Linked DNA regions of Homo sapiens: region 1 is linked to region 2. Evidence: fine-mapped expression QTL. A gene starts in region 2. The other region holds a variant in brackets. All regions are shown on one strand. Distances are from middle to middle. Region 1 overlaps TBC1D10A (TBC1 domain family member 10A). Region 2 holds the start of SEC14L2 (SEC14 like lipid binding 2).

Region 1 (5,352 bases), 98 kb before region 2:
GCCCAGAGGGCTGAGCAGGGAAGCAGAGTATTCACCAGAGGAACCAGAATGTGCTGAAAGGTGTGGCCCAGGCACCTTCATGGGAGTGTTGGTTTAAGTACAAGTTGCCTGCAGGGCAGGGGCAGCATCAGGGAAGGCCCTCAGGAGGGAGGCCAGGTCCTCAGCAAACATACCCAGTGGGCGCAGACACAGGCCCTGCCCTGACGAGCAGGTGACTTCATACAAGCCCCTTTCCCTCTCTGGCCCTCAGTGGGAGTGTCCTAGCATTAAGCTCAAGAACCTAGGGTGCCAGGAACTTGACTAGAGGGTAAGGACTGAGAGGAGCGGCTGACAGAGTGTTCAGGGCTGGAGGGGACAGGGAGGGGCTGGGGCCTCCACACAGAGCCCTAGAGCAGGCACATAGCGGAGCGGTGGATGCGTGCCTCTGGGGCCCCACACACCCTTGTGATGGGGGTCTGTGTACTGTGCACCTCTAAGTACTGTCTGAGCGCAGTGCAGGTTTGCTTTTGTCAGAATGGGGAAGAGGGCCCCACAAATTCTCCTAGCAGTTCCCATGAGGTAGGAACCCGAAAACCCCGGAAGTCAGTTCCTAGGATGTGTTCATCTGGCACTTCAGCAGCCTAAGGCACTTGGCCACACATGGTTGGTGAGAAAGGAAAAGAGGGTAGCTGCAGATCGAAAGGGCACCGGCAGACAAGCAGGTACCATGGTCATGGGGCCTGTAGCCTCCACCAGCCTGAGGGGTACTGGCGCCATCATAAGGTGAAGCCAGAGAAGAAAGCCAGGTAAAAAAGGACAGGAGGTCCTGCCTGCCCAAGGAAGGAGGAAGAAATAGCACGTGCAGGAGAAGGAGCCACCAGCACCTGCAGAGCCTGCCCTGAATGCTGAGGTTGGGATGGGCCACCTGGACTGGGTATTGAATGGAGGGCCCTGTGGGGAGAGAGCACAGAAACAGGTGCATGCTGCCATCACCAGACCCCCACTGTGCCCTGCCTCGGCACAGGACCCGCAGCAACCAGGGGAAGCTCCTCATGCTTCCTCTGGGTCACCCACAGGCAAAGTCTTTCCAGGTGTGCTCACAAACCATTCTTCCAGCCCCCAGAACCATGCAGGAACCCGTCACTCAGCTTCGGTGCATCAAGAAGGCCTTCTCTGCAAATCCACCTCCTCACACAAGCAACTTTCCAGACCCCCTGGGGGGTGGCTGATTCTTCTCTGGAAGCACAGCTCTACACACACATGCACACAGCTCTGTGTTCTGCTGCACACACACTCATGCTTGCTGAACCACACAGCCAAGAGGCTGACCAGGCTGCCCACGCTCTTGGCTCTCATGCCTGGCTCTGGCAGCCTGATTTTAACTATGGACTTGGACTGAGGTTCCCACCCCTGAGCCTCCCACTTTGCCCAGGATGCGGCCCCTCGAAATGGAAGAGATGTAGCCACTAGGAGGAAGACTCTGGAGTCAAGAGGCTGCTCCAGTGTGGCCTGGTATTGGTGCTCTGGGGAATAATCCAATCAGCCAGATTCAGACCTACCCCAGCCAGACACTCTACCAGCTTCCCTGCCCCTGCAAGTCCACGTGTTGCCAGCAAAAAGCTCTCGCCCTCTCCAGGTCAACAGCAGAAACTCTAGGCTACCTTGCCCTGCTCCTGCCCAGTCATCTCAAGGAACAGGTTTGGCAAGACTGGAGTGTTCAATGAAGAAGCATGAGATATGTCAACAAAGAGCTGGTGGTAGGCAGCTCTGCTCTGTCTCACTGTCTGCCTGTCACCAGTCCCAAGGGCCTGCGAGAAACCCCGATGCCTGCGGCCAGATCTGGCAGGTAAGCCGGGGCAACCCCAGGGAATCCAACTGCTTCCCCATAGTTCCCTGGGGGAGCAGGCTGGAGGAGCTGCCCAGCTCTGAATGGAGAGGTATTTTACTCTGGCCAGCCATGGGGCAGGGAGCAGCAGGAGGGATATCGGGACAGGAGGAGGGATAACAACAGAGGGCACCCTCTCTGGCCACTGACTGGCGTCTGACCCCTTGAGCTACTTGGGCAGTTCCCTTCAGCCCCCTTGGGTTTGGCTCTGCTACTCCTAGGGCTGATGACCCCACAAGACACACAGGTGGGCTGTGCTGGCCAGGCTTGGACAAGGCAGGAGAAAGTAGAGGATGGGAGGCCGGGAGACACTGAAGGACCTGTGGTCCTGCTAGTCAAGCCCCCATAGGCCCAGGGCACAGGGCCCAAGGCAGTCAGGGAAATGGTCTGAGTGTCCCCTCCTGATGACCAAGAGCAGGGAGGTAGCCTACTGAGCCCAGGAAAGCAAAACCTGAGTGGTCATCAAGAGAAAGAGCTGGAATAGGGGGTACCAAATCTGGCCATTCCACTGAGGGCTGCTCAGGGCTGGAGCCTCAGTTGTACAGACCCTCCAGGAGACACAGGTACCCAGGACTGGGCCGGTCTGGCCTGCTGGGGCCTGGGCAGTTGGGCACATGACTGGAGGTTTCATGGACTGCTCATCCTGTGAGGTTCAGGTGAGCACATGGAGGATTGCCGCCATGGGGAGGACGCCAAGAGATGCGGAAGGGAGGGCAGGGCAAAGGAAGGGAAACTTACGTCAAACTTTCCAGGGTTCTGCTGTAACTTCACCTTGCCTCCTGACAGGTACTGCCAAGCACGGCCCCGCAGAGAAGGCGGGATGCCCTTTTGGCACCGCAGACGAATCTGAAAATCAAAAGGACAGCTGAGCCCATGCAGCCACCCAGGCAGCTCCCCTAGCCCAGCCCCTCTGCCAATGCGTGGTGGGCCCTCAGTGCACACAGCAGCAAGAGCAGAAACAGGGAGAAAAGAGGACTTTCGCCGGGCAAGGTGGCTCACGCCTGTAATCCCAGCACTTTGGGAGGCCGAGGCGGGTGGATCACCTGAGTTCAGGAGTTTGAGACCAGCCTGGCCAACATGGTGAAACCCCGTGTCTACTAAAAATACAAAAATTAGCTGGGTGTGGTGGCGGGCGCCTGTAATCCTAGCGACTCGGGAGGCTAAGGCAGGAGAATCATTTGAACCCGGGAAGCAGAGTTGCAGTGAGCCAAGATCGTGCCATTGCCCTCCAGCCGGGTGACAAGAGCAAAACTCTGTCTCAAAAAAAAAAAAAGGACTTTTCCTACTGTTGCTACCATGCCAATCCTATGGTGCGGGGAGAGGAGGTGCCTGCAATTAGATATGCTAACACCAGGTGATGGCAGGGTCCCACATCCCTGGTGACAACACAGGCATTCCTGAGGTTTGCCATGGAATTCCAGACCCTCATAACTATCTTCTGAATCAAAATGGAACCCTATAGGCGGGCACGCTGGCTCACACCTGTAATCCCAGCACTCTGGGGAGCCGAGAAGGGCAGATCACT[T/A]AAGGTCAGGAGTTCGAGACCAGCCTGGCCAACATGGTGAAACCCCGTCTCTACTAAAAATACAAAAAATTAGCCAGGCATGGTGGTGGGCGCCTGTAATCCTAGCTACTTGGGAGGCTGAGGCACGAGAATCGCTTGAACCCAGGAGGTGGAGGTTGCAGTAAGCTAAGATCGTGCCACTGCACTCCAGCCGGGGCGACAGACCGAGACTCTGTTTCAGGAAAAAAAAAAAAAAAAAGGAAAAGGAACCATTACAAGTTGGGTGAACCCCATAGTCTGTCACCAGGGAGGGCATTGCACTGTGTGCGGCTCAGCTGCAGCCACAGGGAAGGTAGCTCATGAGATGAACCAGAATGTGCCCAGAGGTGTGGCCTGGGCACTTTCACGCAGGTATGTTGGTTTCAGCAGCCATGTGGCAGGATACCGCCAGCCTAGAGGGGAGAAATCTCAGCAGAACTCTGAAGGAAGATGGGAGCTGCTCAAATGGCTCCCTCTTTGTTTTGGTCAAGAATCCCCACTCTCCTCTCGTTGACCCTGAGCTCCCAACATCACCAGCCTGGGGCATAGGCAGCTGGCCTGAGTGTGAGTCCTGATCTCAGCCCTTGCTAAAATGGCCCAGGTCTTCTCTGCCACTCGTAGAATGGGAGAAGTGAGGGAGGAAGTATTTGAGGCAGCTCATGACCCAGAGCTAGTGCTCAATTCCGGCTAGCTGTTTTTATCAGGAAAAGTTTTCACTGGCAAAACTCAATTTGAAAAACTATCAAAACGATCATGTCTTTTACAAATGGGGCATTGAGGGTAGGGGAAAATTCGTGGGGGAAATTTCATCACACAAGCAGAGTGGGGGTAAATTTGTCATACAATCAGAAACCCTACTACCTCCTAGCTGCACCGCACAGGCTGGAGGGACCCAGCCCCGTGTACTTTCTACATCACCAGTGGGCTCCTCCTGGGCTTGGGACCAGAATGAGGCTCTGAAGGCAGTTGCCCTGACCCGTCAAGGTGGGCAAGGACAAAGGCAGAGGCATCACTCCTGTGAAATGCTGTGGTGGGGGAGGGGTGAGATGGCCAATGATACTCCCTCAACCCCTGCACTAAGCAGCCTGACCTGGGATAAAGGGGATGGGCGCTCGGGGCATGAGAAGAACATCTGGATGTGGGTTTGAATCTAGCGCTGACCTTAAGCCAACCACTTCTCAACTGTAAGATCTGAATAATACCTACTACTGTGCAGAGTTGTCAAAGGAGTCCATTAGAGAGGGAAAATGTGCTTAGTGTGGGGCCTGACACAGTCTGTGTTCAGTAAGCAATGGCTTCCTCTCTGCCCCTCCATCCCAGGAGGATGCTTGACACAGAAGCCCAGGACCTCAGCTCACACCTAACTTCCCCTCACCTAGAAACCCCCTTCAACAGTCCTGCTGGAAGCTCTCAGAGGAGGGAGTACAGAAGCCCTGGCCTTCCTGGGGACCAGTGCAAACAAGAGAAAACTTTCCAAGGGTCAGAGAGAGTCAAGAACCAGGAAGGAGCCAGGCAAACAGGCTGAGGGTGGTGGGGGAAGAGTAGCAGTGGCTGGTCACAGGTGCCAAGTGAGAGCTTCTGGGACTGCCTAGAAAGGAGGCAGAGGAAGGGGGCTGAAGGGAACTGCACTAGACGCAAGGAAGAGTTTCCTGCGGCTATGGGACAAGGGTCTCCTTAAGGAAGCCAACTTGGGCAGGCTTTGGCAAAGGGATGTGCTTTAGCCCAAAGCCACAGGCCCTTCAGGCTCTCCCACAGAGCTAAGCTCAGCAAGAGGCAGCCCCACATCATCACAGCCCCCATCATATTTGGCCTTCTCCAGGAGAGCCCTGGAACACTTCGCGGGCAGCAAAGAGCTGGGAGTACAGCCAGCCTTTCCCACTCTGGCCTCCTCAGCATAAAGGTGCTGGAGGGGGTCATCTCTACCCTGCCTGCCTTAGGGAGGATG
Region 2 (5,364 bases):
CTTTGTCGCCCAGGCTGGAATGCAATGGTGCCATCTTGGGTCACTGCAGCCTCCACCTCCTGGGTTCAAGCGATTCTCCTGCCTCAGGCTCCCAAGTAGCTGGGACTACAGGTGTGTGCCACCATGCCTGGCTAATTTTTTTTTTTTTGGTATGTTTAGTAGATACGAGGTTCACCATGTTGGCCAGGCTGGTCTTGAACTCCTGACCTCAGGTGATTCACCCACTTCAGCCTCCCGAAGTGCTGGGATTACGGGTGTGAGCAACCGAGCCTGGGCCTATTTAGGATTTATATGATCAAATTAACTAGCTGTTTTATGGTGGGCCAGAAGTAGGTTAAGTCTCAGTGGAGGAAGAAGAAAGAGGCAGCTGTTGAACCTGGGAAGGGCAGGCCTGGGGAAGGGTTCTTTACCGAGGCTTTTATTTGGGTAACTTCAGATGCGGGGAGGGCTGTATCCTGCTGGGTGAAGGTGATCTTGTACTTTCGTGGGTAACTTTCGCAGGCAGTTCCCAGGCCCGTCCACACCTTGGCCTGGGAGCATACGGCCTAGAAACCACAAACTTGGGTTTAAGTCCCAACTCTGCACGTGCCCACCTATGACCACCTCTCCCTCAGGCTCCTCAATAAGTCACCTGACCTGCCTACCTTAGAGGATTGTCCCACACTTAAGTGACAAGCTAGATCTGAAGGTACCTTGTGAGCTCTAAGTTGCTGAACCAATATAAGAGGCTGTGCTTCTTGTTTTTATTTTTTGTTTGTTTGTTTTTTTTTTTTAGAGGGAGTCTTGCTCTGTCGCCCCAGACTGGAGTACAATGGTGTGATCTCAGCTCGCTGCATCCTCTGCCTCCCAGGTTCAAGCAATTCTCCCACCTCAGCCTCCTGAGTAGCTGGGACTACAGATGCACACCACCACGCCTAGCTAATGTTTGTATTTTTAGTAGAGACGGGGTTTCACCATGTTGGCCAGGCTAGTCTCAAACTCCTGACCTCAGGTGATCTGCCTGCCTTGGCCTCCCAAAGTGCTGGGATTATAGGTGTGAGCCACCGCGCCCGGCCAAGATGCTGTTCTTCTATAATAGTTTCCTTTGAGTAGGCTCTAGCCTGGAAAGAATATCCTGGCCCTGGAAGGGTCTTATATAAAGATCTTAGCCATGTATCCAGTAAGGAAGGCAGCCCTGTCCTGCCCCAGGCCAGAAGCCAGCGAGCCTAACTAGGGCAGAACTGCCTGAAAACTCTCTGTAGAGGTGGGCGTTGGGGGCCTCAACCCTCACTCTGCACCCTGCAGCAGGCGTCTATGGAGGGGGCCACACCAAGGGCAGAGCAAAGTCCTTAAATGTCTTTAACAGGCCTGGTGCCTTTGCCTCCAGGTAAGGAGAGAGACTGGGGACATTCTGCTTTGTCTCTCCCAGAGACTTGAGTGTTGAGGGGGCAGAAGTATGGCTCTGGGAGACGAGATGCCCACAGACTCCTGGACCTAGCTCTGCATTAATTCCAGGCCATAAGGGGAGGGCACAGCTGAGCACTTTCCATGTGCCAGGCAGTGGGCACTCCACATATGTCATGCCACTAACAACTTTGGGCAAGCCATGCCTTATCTGGGCCTCAGTTTCCCTAGCTGTTAAACGAGGTAAGTTGCATGATCCCTGAATGATCTATGTTTCTCTCTCCCTCTCAGGGTTCTGCCAGCCCCGGGATCTGTGTCTCTATTGGAGCAGTTCTTACATTCATTCATTCATTCAGGATACATTTATTAATAATCCCTGTAGGCTGGGCACCGTGGCTCACATTTGTAATCCTAGCACTTTGAGAGGCCGAGGCGGATCACTTGAGGTCAGGAGTTCGACACCCGCCTGGCCAACATGGTGAAACCCCATCTGTACTAAAAATACAAAAATTAGCTTGGCATGGTGGCGTGCACCTGTAATCCCAGCTACTCGGGAGGCCGAGGCAGGAGAATAGCTTGAACCCGGGAGGCGAAGGTTGCAGTGAGCCGAGGTCGTGACACTGCACTCCAGCCTGGGTGACAGAGCGAGTCTCCGTTTCAAAAAAAAAACAATGCAAAAACAATCCCTGTGTGCAGGATGCTGTGCTGTCCTGCACTATGCGAGCCTGGTTAGAAGAGCTCATTAGATAGCACCTTTCAATCCCTCCTTGTTCAGAGGCCCAGAGAGCTCAGGTGTCTCTTCCAAGGTCACACAATGAGGTAAGGATAAATTTGGAACTAAAACTGAGACTCCCTGCCCTTCTGATGCCCACTGGCCTCAGTCCCAGTGGGCACACTTGCTCGCCTCCTGCCTGGGTCTCTGACTTCAGGAGGGCGGAGGGGGCCCGTGTCAGAGCCTTCCGCGCCCCAGCGCATCGCTCCCTACTCCGCCTCTCGGGATCCTTTAAGAGGCGGGGCTTGGCTGCCAGCTCCGCGGCCCGGGCAAAAGGCTGGGACTTTACTCCGGGTGGCGGCGAGGACGAGTCTGTGCTCCATCAGCTGCCGCACCCGCCGCCTCCCGCCCCCAAACCCCATCCCCGCGGTTGAGCCACGATGAGCGGCAGAGTCGGCGATCTGAGCCCCAGGCAGAAGGAGGCATTGGCCAAGGTGAGCTGTAGCCCTGGCCCGGGCTCCCGCCTCGGGCTGTGGCCCTCGCCCTCCTGCGGCAGCGAGAAGGGACGGGGCTGGGTGGGGGCCGAGGGTCCGTGGCGGGCGGCGGAGGGAACAGAGGCGGCTGTCCCAGCCTGGCCCGCGCCCGCGGATGGCTCCTTCCTCCCTTTGCCACCCTCGAGGTCCCAGGAAGTTTGGCCACCCCCCGCCCAAGCTCTGAGCAGCCGTGGCGGTGCCACCTGGGGACAAGTGGTTGCTTGTGAGTCCCCGGAGGCCGCTGAGGGCACAAAGGCAACATTCATCCTCGGGACTGGCAGCCGGGCCCTGGGGCAGGGGCAGGGGCAGGGGCCCAAGTTTCCTCCCATTTCCGGGAGGCTTTCTTCTTGTAGGGTCAGTGGCACGATGGAAAGGGCTCTGGATAGCTCCTTGGGAGACTTGGATAGCTCCTGCCCCGGCACCAAGCCGCTGTGCGACCTTGGGCAAAACCCTGCCCTTCTCTTTGCTCCTCGATGCCATGGAATGAGGAGGTTGGACCAGATGATGTTGAAGGGAACACCTCCGTGTGTGAATTCCAGGCTCCCCCCATGAGGCACTGGGTTGGTGTTAGTTTGAGCTGAGACCAGCCGTCCCCTATCTTGCATCCCAGACCCCTGCCTGGTTCAGGACTTAAGGTTTATGCTCCTCAGAAGGCAAGAAGGTGAGCCTGGCTTTGCCTTGGCATCTGTGACAAGGAGGGGGCAACAGTTTGAGGGCGGGACCTTCCTCTTCACGAACTAAATCTCTTATCTGTCACCCCTGGGGAGTGAGGAGGTCGGCTCTTCTCTGGGCAAGAGCCGATAGGGTCTGGCCCCAAGATTTGGAGGCTCCACAGCTGGGGAGTTTTCCATGGCTGGGAAAGGTGGGGCGGGGGGCAGATGTATCCTGCCACTGGCAGCAGTGGGGAGGCACCAGCTCCATAAAGCCTCTGTCCCAGGCTGGGCCTCCCCCATCCCAGGAAGGCTGGACAGGGAGGCTTCAGATTTTACTGCTGACTCGCAGGAGAGGTCAGGCAGAGAAGGGATTAGGTGGTGATTAAACTGGAGACCAGGGGCTGGTTAGGGTCCTTGGAGAGGGGTAGCTTCATGCCTGCAGTTTGGAGGAGCAGTTTCCCTGGTGCACTGGGAGCTGCTTTGTGGGGTGGGATGGTCTGAGTCCCTGGCTGACCTAGGCAAGGGGCAGAGGTGGCCAGTCCTCATTAGTGTCCTCTGGGACTGCCCTCTAGGTCAGTGGTCAGGGAAAGGTGAATGGCTGGGAGCAGGAGGCTCAGGGAGGGCATATAGGGGCCTGTTCGCCTACCAGGGAGTGAGAGGTTGGAGGTAGGTGTGGCTGTCCATTGAGGTCACTGTCCACCTCCTTTGTTTGGCACTACCTGCACTTTCCCGCTTCCTGGCTTCCCCTACTGGAACTGTTCCCTCCACCTGAGTTGCCCACCTCTCTCCCCCGCTGCCTTTGAAGTCCTTCAAGCCCAGCACAAATGCCATGTTTTATAGGAAGCCGTGTGAGACCACCTCTTTCTTCCCTCTGCTCCCCAGCAAACTCCTCATCCTTCCATGGGGCAGAAGACCATGGTGGAAAGAGTGTGTGCTCTGGACTCAGACAGACCCGGGTTTGCATCCCAACTCTGCTAATGACTAGCTGTTTGACCTTGGGCATGTTACTTAGCCTCTCTGAGCTTTAATTCCTTCATCTGTAGAATGGGGACAATACTTCTACGGGTTGTGAGTGAGGAGTAAATAAGCTATGGTGCCAAGATCAGCGCTGAGCGACAGGAAATGCTTGGTAAACTGACAGCTTTTACTGCAGTCCGTATCAGAGTGCCTACTATCACGATTAGCTGGGAACACATCTGCCTGCCCGCAGACTGGTGTGTGGGAGCCCTTGTTGTGGGGCAGGGGCAGTGTCTCACTCCCTTCCCACTTCCTGCCCTGCAACCTGGCACCCCCTGACAAGACAGTGCTCCAGGCAGCATGAGTGCCCAGGGAGTGTCTGCAGAGTTGAACTATGTTAAAGAGAAGTCCAGTTGGCCGGGCGTGGGGGTTCATGCCTGTAATCCCAGCACTTTAGACCGAGATGGGCGGATCAGGACGAGGTCAGGAGATCAAGACTACCCTGGCTAACACGGTGAAACCCTGTCTCTACTAAAAATACAAAAAATAGCCAGGCGTGTTGGCAGGCCCCTGTAGTCCCAGCTACTTGGGAGGCTGAGTCAGGAGAATGGTGTGAACCCGGGAGGCAGAGCTTACAGGGAGTGGAGATCGCCCACCGCACTCCAGCCTGGGCGAGAGTGCGAGACTCTATCTCAAAAAAAAAAAAAAAAAAAAAAAAGAAACAAAGAAAGAGGCGTCCAGCAAAGATCTCAGTGGAGAGTCCTAGGCAGAGGGCAGCAGTCAGGGCGGGCCCTACCACTCACCCCGATGCCTCTCCCTACAGTTTCGGGAGAATGTCCAGGATGTGCTGCCGGCCCTGCCGAATCCAGATGACTATTTTCTCCTGCGTTGGCTCCGAGGTGAGGGAAGAGGGGCTGCGGGAGGCTGGGGCAGGGGCTTGTTCTGGGCAACAGAATAGCACCCTCTGAAAACCCTGCCCTTGGCAATTGAGGCATCTAGAGTGTCCAACCTTTAGCGCCAAAGGGCCCTTGGCAATGACATAAGCTCAACCCTCCTAGTGGATAAAGACACTGAGGCTCAGAGAGGTCAAGTGACTTGTTCCAAGCCACACAGTGAGCGAACTGCA

Evidence for each region. PIP is the estimated chance that this variant, and not a neighbour inherited with it, causes the effect.
Region 1: its variant is the best candidate, but not a certain one, in a credible set for the expression of SEC14L2 in whole blood (INTERVAL, PIP 0.72).

The regions. Positions count from the first base shown.
Region 1 is chr22:30,296,842-30,302,193 of GRCh38, forward strand. TBC1D10A (TBC1 domain family member 10A) reads right to left here. Exons shown (of 9, transcript NM_031937.3): 3 at 2,603-2,710. Among named protein-coding and RNA genes, the nearest start is that of CASTOR1, 10 kb to the left of the region's middle. The variant T/A (reference allele first, on the strand shown) is at 3,390.
Region 2 is chr22:30,394,582-30,399,945 of GRCh38, forward strand. It overlaps SEC14L2 (SEC14 like lipid binding 2), which reads left to right and starts at 2,437. Exons shown (of 12, transcript NM_012429.5): 1 at 2,437-2,589; 2 at 5,062-5,137. The coding sequence starts at 2,536. RefSeq lists silencers at 2,680-2,749, 2,770-2,829.